Linked DNA regions of Homo sapiens. The protein of the gene in region 2 interacts with the protein of the main gene of each other region in a pairwise test. Each region holds a gene or a part of one and is shown on either strand. Other genes may lie near its edges.

What was found.
Region 1: the proteins of CNTN4 (region 2) and BTG3 interact in a two-hybrid assay, tested with the Homo sapiens proteins (one large-scale study listed by BioGRID and IntAct).

The regions. Positions count from the first base shown.
Region 1 is NC_000021.9:17,602,599-17,606,409, forward strand, and holds part of BTG3 (protein BTG3), read right to left. Parts: intron 2,400-3,811; coding exon 2,262-2,399; intron 1,679-2,261; coding exon of another isoform or gene 1,547-1,678; intron 1-1,546. UniProt on the Homo sapiens protein: Overexpression impairs serum-induced cell cycle progression from the G0/G1 to S phase.
Region 2 is NC_000003.12:2,097,268-2,101,775, reverse strand, and holds the start of CNTN4 (contactin-4 isoform a precursor), read right to left. Parts: upstream 2,911-4,508; 5' UTR 2,798-2,910; intron 2,503-2,797; exon of another isoform or gene 1,612-2,502; intron 1,461-1,611; exon of another isoform or gene 1,219-1,460; 5' UTR 1,137-1,218; exon of another isoform or gene 1-1,136. UniProt on the Homo sapiens protein: Contactins mediate cell surface interactions during nervous system development. Has some neurite outgrowth-promoting activity. May be involved in synaptogenesis.

The DNA.
Region 1 (3,811 bases), on a different chromosome or scaffold from region 2:
TGACACTCGCAGGTGATTTCTATTAGCTGTGAAAAAAATCACATCAGAGCCAATTTTTGGCAAATTTACATATAAATTAGAAGCCTACTGAATGAAAAGGTTTTCTAAGATTAATAAGATGAAAGCAAAGTAGCAGTTTTTTCCTACCAGGCATCATCAAGTAATGAAATGTCTACTGAAGTAGAATGTCCGTATAACTAAAGTTTTTATGTTCAGGTACTGAGACTTATTTTAAGCATTTTAAATACATAGGTCCAAAATGTTTATATAATTATGTAACTTGTTAAACATCCTTGGACATAAAAACTTTCCCCTGATGGTTTAGGATCATTATATTGAACGTAAACTATTTGATTGTGTGATAACATAATCGTGCTGATTTTTTAGCTTTTTCATTTTTGCCTCTATGTCAGACCACATGACATTTTTTGGTAGCGTCTGACTCATCAACCCTCTTTAAAATGCTGCTTCTCACATTTCATGGGTTAAGAAACCACACAACTAACTTAACTGTGTGTTAAATAGGAGCCAACTAGGATCTAAGTGCAGGTCAAATTAAAAAGTAAACAATTCAATATAGTAGCTTTTTGACAGCTATTTCTTATAAATGGAGGTCTTCTGCACAGGTTCAGTGGCCAAAGTTTTCCAAGTCTGAAACTAGCCTAAAGCAGGTCCTTAATTAGTCCCAGAATCTAAAAATGTTTATTTTCTCAGACCTAAATTTGAGATAGCTTGCTCCTTTTCTACCCGAGAAAGAAGTATTGGAGAATGTTTATCACAAACCTCTACCACCTACATCTGGTTTCCAAAAGCAATAAACTTACACCAACCACTGGCAAATCAGGTAGTAACCTCAAGCGGTGGTCCTGACAAAATTTAATGGAAGAATAATCATGTAATTCATCTCTCCTGTCTTCACCTCCACCTTCATTGCTGGAATCAGGTCAGTCTGCGACCACCTTAGGAGTACATAGTTAGGGTTCCTTCAAAAAGCAACTTTACTACAATCAATAAAGAGGCCAGGTGGTCAGGTGAATTGTACCTCAAAACCAAATAGAAACATCCTAAAGGCAGAGCCACAGGAAAATTCTTGCAGGAATTCCATGCCTCTGTTCATCTTCTTCCTGCTAGTTAGAACATCCTTCCCACCTTGTCACCTGGTCAACCATGGCTCATCCTTCACCTCCCAGCTCAAGTATCACCTACTCAGTAGTCTCCTGACTCCTCACCAGATGCAGTAACTTTCTACTTTGTGCAACCTACCACTGCATTTTGTACACATTTCTAACATAAATCAGATAACAATGTAATTTGCTTACTTTTCTTCTCAATTTCAAACTGAATTACCTAAAAGCAGAATGTTGCTTTCGTTTTTGAAAACCCTACAACTGAGAGTGCCTGGTCCACAAATAATGGTTTTTGAGCAAGTGGAGTTCAAAAAGATTTCATACCTAGCACTGATCTTTCACAACTCTATTCATTAGGAGATGTGAAAAATAACTTCCATTATAAAAATAAAACCACGAAGTATCACTCAGTCACTTACATAATCAAAAAGGAGGAGGCCGGGCGCAGTGGCTCACGCCTGTAATCCAGCGCTTTGGGAGGCCAAGGCGGGCGGATCACGAGGTCAGGAGTTTGAGAGCAGTCTGGCCAACATGGTGAAACCCCATCTCTACTACAAATATAAAAAAAAATTAGCCGGGCACAGTGGTGGGCGCCTGTAATTCCAGCTACTCAGGAGGCTGAGGCAGGAGAATCACTTGAACCCGGCAGGCAGAGGTTGCAGACAGCCAAGAATGCACCATTGCGCTCCAGCCTGGGCAACAAGAGTGAAACTCCGTCCCAAAAAAAAAGAGGAGAGAGGGAGAATAAACAGAAACAGAAACAAACCAAAAGTGGTTATCCAGTATTATTTGGGATTAGCTTCTTAATTTGAAGACAGACAAGTGCACCACCAATTAAAGATAATAGACACCTAGCGGAATCTAGGTGTCTACTTCTTGGTCTACAATAAGCTTCTTGGCAAAGCACTACTAGAAAACCCCCGCCTAATCAGTTTCTTTTTTCGGCTATAAAGCAGAAATCTAACTAGTCCTTCAACATCACCTCCAGAAAAGTATTTCATAAAATTTACATCTGAGAGAGTTAAACCACCAGCTCCTGGCCATAAAGATACACAGGCAGGCCGTACATGACAGAATGTCATAAAATTAGTTCCAGCATGGTCATCAGTTCAGCCTCTAAACTTGAGAACTCACCGACAGCACACCTCACATGGGTCCACCCAGAGAGTGAGCTCCTTTGGCAAGCCCAGGTCACTATACAAGATGCAGCTGTTTTCACAGGCTTTCAGGACATCAGGATCAACTCTCTGAAATTTATTGACACGAATACATCTACAACAAAGTGGAGTTACGTTAATGGATTTAAATGAATTTAATCATAAACGCCGTAATATCTATTCATACTTGCCAAGGTGAGTAATAAAATAGTAATAAAAAAATACCCTGGTAGAGAACCTAGGAGCATATCTATCCTAAACAGATAATAAATGTGAACTACAGGCACAGAGGCAGCCTGAAAAAAAGATGGCACCTATGTGAGCCCAAGGAAATCACTAGTACTGGGTCTACCTCAGTCTACCCAGAGACTTGACCACCCATGTACATTAAATGAGCACGGAGTATGAAAGTTGCACGAAATTTTAGAACTCTGAAGGTAAAAGTTTCTATAGGCCAAGTTCCTATACAAAAAAATCTCTAACAAAAGGCCTCATCTAATGTTTCAGATGGTATTTGGAAATGCTTACGACAAATTCTGATCTGTCATTAACTTGCTTTTATATCTCAGATAGTAAAGTGGTAAGAGGACACCCTTGCTTTACCTATAATTGTTCTATAAATACAGGATAAGTGAAGGACACAGATTCATTCATATCATATACTTATGATTAAAATACCTAACTAACATGTTATTGGCTTATTTCATTTAACTTCTATTTACCCAAGCACTTTTATTTAAATAGTTGTCAAAATTAAGTGAGGAAAATTTCTAAACCAATAAAGCCTCTGTCCCATCTTTTTTTAACCTATTATACGACATCTACCTAATGGAATGTTTAATAAATAAAAAATATGCATTCTGTTAAATGATAAGCATTCTGATTAAGTAGGGAAATAGGGCCTATGAAGGAAAAGTATTTACTGCCTACAATCAAGAATCAATCAAGAGAACTTGGATTTCAGCACTAATCCTAGTATTTATCAGGTAAGCCTAGTTAAGTCACTGTACCTCTTCCTCAGACCTGTAACTATAAAACATGGAAATACAAGTTAATTGATGAATAGTAATTACGCTGTAAAATACAATGATATAAAGACTAATGTGCTATTTAAAGTTTTTGTAAAAGTTAAATTATTAGTTGGTTTTAATTTCTATTTAAAAAATGAAAAAGTTCTCAACAGGTAATAGGAATAAGTGTTTCTACATAATAATATTAACAATAATAAGCATTTTAAAAAATTTATTATGCAATGGACAATTTCCTAAATGCTTTGCATGTATTAACTCTTAATTCTCATGATCATCCTGTGAGTTAGATACTTTTTTCCTCAGCATAAAGAAAAAAGGAGGCAGAGAGAGTTTGAGTAACTTCCCAACATTACACAGCTACTAAGTGATGGATCTAGGGTTCAAATCCAGGCCACTAGACTCCAAAGAGCAAGTTATTTCCTTAATACTCAACCCTGTATATACGTACCTATCTTAGCGTCACCATTAACAATATAACAAAGGCAAAGTGAGAAAA
Region 2 (4,508 bases):
CTTTTTTGTTTCTTTGTGTGTTTTATAAGTAGTGTATCATATAACAGCATGTCTTCAGTTTATAAATAAATTTTATTGATATGTTGTCAGATTTCTTCTGATAGTAAATAATAATAATAATGAAGATCAATAAATCTAGGCAGTAAATCCTGCCTCCTTGCCTCCTTCACTAGGCTTAAAACATAGCATTACAGGGAAAAATGAACAAAAAGGAACAAAAAAAATCAGTGTGTAGAGACTTCCCCCTGCCTATCATATGAAATAGACTTATTCAACTAAAATAATATAAAAGCAAGTTTTTACAAAATATTAATTTTTAAGATAAGAGAGATTGAAGCTAATGCATATTATGTCTGTCCTCAAATATAACAAAGAAGAAACAACAAGTTAAAATCATGATCAGACAAACTTGTAGAAAAGTCAGTACCATGCATGGGAATTTTCTGCTGAGCAGCTTTATTTTTTTAAGACCTAAATTGAAGGAACGGATGCCCTGTATACATTTCAGAAGAAAAACTGCAGCCAAAAGATTTAGTGCTTAGATCGGAAAAGAAATCAGAAGACCTACTTTTGAACAAAAAGGAGAGAGAAGTAGGTAAAATAAGTGAATGATAAAAAATCCAACATCATTTGAAAGGTTTGTTCTCTAATCACTCTTAATTACCTGCCAATATGAAATGACCATGGAAAAAGGTACTGCATTGACTCCCAATTGACTTGAAAAGTTTTACAACTCAAAGAAACTGAAAAGTGTTGTTTAAAAAACTGCAAATAGGAAAATCTACCTCTGTTGAAACTTACATGTGGCTCTGACATGCACCCTTATCCAAGTCACTTCTCTTAGACTCTTAGTCTTTAATTGAAAAGGTCAGTTTTTCCATCCTTGCCAGCTACCTCCCAGGGTTCAGATGGAAAAATAATGACGTTTATCAGCATCATCTCTCCTCAACAAGACAGAGCAGTTGAAACCAGCTTCAACAAACAAATCAATAGCTATTTTATAAGGTAGCAAAAATAATATTCTCATGAAACTTGTTTTTGATCCTTAGCAATCTTACCTACTCCTGCGACCCACTGCAGATATTCCCACAAAATCTTTAAAGAAATCAAGATAAAAATAGCAAGAATAAACTTACGGGTAACGTGAATTTTCTCATGAATGCCACCCAAATCACCTCCAGGTGCCTGTCTTCATGACACACTGTTCTTTTTCACCCACTTGGGTAGAGAGAGAGAAAGAGAGAACAAACTTGCTATTAGGCAGACTTGGGAACGCTATTGTATGGACCTGCTCATAGGCAACCTATACAGTCTTTACGCTCCTACCCCACTCTCTAAAGGACATAAACCAGAAATCTCAAAAAACAAAAAAATACAAGCGCGTTCCAAATTATCTTGTGTGGGTATCCAAACGACTCAGTTATGTGGAGTTACTCCTTGAACTATCCAGCTCCCACTACAGAAAATTGAAAGAGCTTCCCATGCAGTTAAATGCCACTGTTATTCTGACAAACATGTGCCCGCCCCTATGTTGATTCCAGCAGGAAAACTAGAAAAAGTTCCACGACATTCCTTTCAGGAACTCCTCTTACAAATAAACCTCCAACACACCTCAAGATCCGGCCCACTCTCCTCCACGCAGACCACACACCCAGGGTGCTCAGTCACACTGACTCGCCCTACACAACCTCCGCCAGCTTCTTCGCACCGAATCTGCAGACCCTGGCCAGCAAGCAACCGCCTGATCTTCCCGACGCGCGAAGCCGCCTCCTCGCAGGAGCTTCGCTGCGAAATGTTTCCATGCAGCCGACTCTCTGGCTGGTTCAGAGGGATTCAGGAGCCCACGTCCTCCTACCCTCACCTCCACACCCTTCATAAATAGTAAAACATATACACGAAGCACAAGAGAGAAAATGCACGAAGATTTTGAGCCCCGCGTTCCAGAAGGAGAGTGAGTGGATTGGGGTCTGTGGGGCGCCCGGCGCACAGTTCGCCGCCGTCTGGGCCCGGGGAGGGGACGGGGCGGTTGTCTTGCCTCTCGAAAGAAACTGGAAACCCCCCAGAAGTTGCTGGAAACGAATGCCACCCAACAGGCTCCCGCGGCAGAGACTGGGGAAGCCAGGTACCTTCCCTAAGAGCAGGCACCTGGCCTGTCGCTCGCCGCCGCAGCCTCAGCGCTCAGCAGCCAGCCCGGCACCCAGCGGGCGCCACAGACATCAGCCTCCGTCTCCACGCGGCTCCTTCCACCACGGCTACGGGCTCCTGTTCCTTTAGTCCCAGGTCCCTCCACTCCCCAGGTTCGCGTCCCTCTGCTGCGGGCTGTGACTGGGCTGTCAGAAGAAAAGCCCCGCCGGGAACCCGGCGCCAGAGGCCAGGGCGCACGGAGAGGGGGCAGTAGCCCGAACCAGTCGGAGGAGCTGACTTGAAGGCTTCCCGCAGCATTCCGGGCTCTCGGTTCCTTGTTTTGTGGCTGCCTCGCAGCGCAACAAACTTATTTTCCGGCTGAGAAGGAGAAGAAGGGTCGCTGTGGGGTGACGGTGGCGTCGTCGGGGCCCTGAGTCCTCCGCGCTCAGGCGTTCAGCTCCCGCTCCCCGACCCTGCAGGGCTTCCGGGCTCTGAGCTGGACGGCCCCGCAGACGCTGCCCGGCCCCGCGGGAGTCAGAGCCCCGGGAAGCGCCCCTGTCCTTCGGGCAACCCGCGCGGACCCTGCCCTTTCCCCCCCACACCCGCGACCGCGTCCCCGGGGCATCGCGCGCCCACGCAGGAGCCGGACCCGCACAGCTGCCGCCTCACTTACCTCAGCACCGGGGCGCCGGGCTGGCGAGAGCCTCGGGTGCGGCGCCGGCACAGTCCGAGGGGCCCGGGGCGGCGGCGAAAGCTCCCTACTTGCAGCCAATCCTGGCGTCGAACCCCGGGCTCCGTCTGGCGCGGCGCTGCCCTCCCTCCCGGCGCTCGCGGCGGCTGGAAAAACCTGGCGCGCCGGAGTTCGGGCTGCCGGCTCCTTAGCCGCGGGGCGGGGGAGACGCTCGGGGAAGGGGAGAGGCGCGGGCGGGTGGGAACGGGCGGGAGACGAGCGGGGACGGGGAGACGCGCCGGAGGCCCGGAGCCCGCGCATGCTCAGTGCGCGGCCGGAGGAGGCGAGCGCTGGGGACGCAGCACCTGCCCCGCGCGGCCGAGAGGCGGCAGCCCCAGGTCCCCAGCGCGCGAAATTAGTAAAGGGCGCCTGGCCCGATTCTCAGGCAAGAGGAGATTATCAGCCGGATTCCCGTGCGGGGACGTAGGGGTTGCGTTGTTCAGCGGCCAGGGATGCGCCGAGGCGATGTCTCCTCCCTTTACAACCCGAGTATCGGGGCACGAGGAGGCGCGACCTTCCTGGGTACCCAAACCTCTGGCCTCCGGGAGACGCGGAATTCGGGGGATCGTTAAGGCGCCCTGGCCAGGGAAACAGATGCTTCTGCGTCTGGGCTGAAAATTGCTGAACCGGGGAATGTGGGTGGGCGGGTGGCATTGAACTTAGGCCAGAAGAGGGGGCTTTGGTAGGTTTTTACCTGCCTGTCCTTAGGCGGAGGACACTGGCTGGACAGGCTGCGTTACACACCTGAAGTCTCATCCACGCAAAGTGCTTTCAGGTTGGAATGTGGGGCGGGGGCGGGGGGAGGTCAGAGGGAACAGTTGCTGTAAATTAGGTACAAGGATCAATTTGTGGTGTGTTGTGCGCGGGGGTGGGGCATGTCGAAAGCCTTGTTATTCGAAAGAATGTGCTTTGAACGACGTTGCCACGGTCATTCTACATTATGAATCTACTGTTTCCTTGCAGAAGTGGCTCCCTTCGCCGCAACTCCACACCTCGGGGTAACCGTAGAGATTGGCAGCAATGCCCCAGCCCCTCACCAGCACTGTGCAAAGTGACTTTGACAGGCAGAGAAAAGCCAACCCAGTCGAATTCGTCTGGAAAGCATTCCAGCAACCCAGAGAGGAGCCTCTGTTTCTCTCTCTGGGAAAAAGCCCCAAGGGTTTTGCTGAACCCAGGTCTTCCTGCTCATCTCTCAGCAGTTCAGAGCTACATAAACAACTTCTGACCATTTACGCAATCATGTAAACCTACCCTGACATCTCCACTATGTGGAAAAGATGTTAACTGGAAAACTATTTTTAAACTACTGCAGTAAGCAAATAAACATCCAACTCCAACATATATATGCAGCAGCCTTATTAGTTCATTCAGTGTTGGTTTGGTTTGTTTGTTTTGTCTTCTGCTTTTTAGAATTAATTATTATCTTTATAATTCCTGTTCGAGAAGTGGGCAAAACCAGGCTAGTGATAGGTATTGTTGTGGTCAAATTTTTCATCACTTGAAATTCCATGACTTTCATGATTGCTGAGATTAATGCTAAATAAAGAAGTTACCCCCCCGCCCCCACCCCACCCCAACCTCCCCACCAAAGTTTCCTGATTACTTAAACTTGGAGAGAAATTTTCAGGCTTTTTCCTCCCTCCTTGCCTGGTAT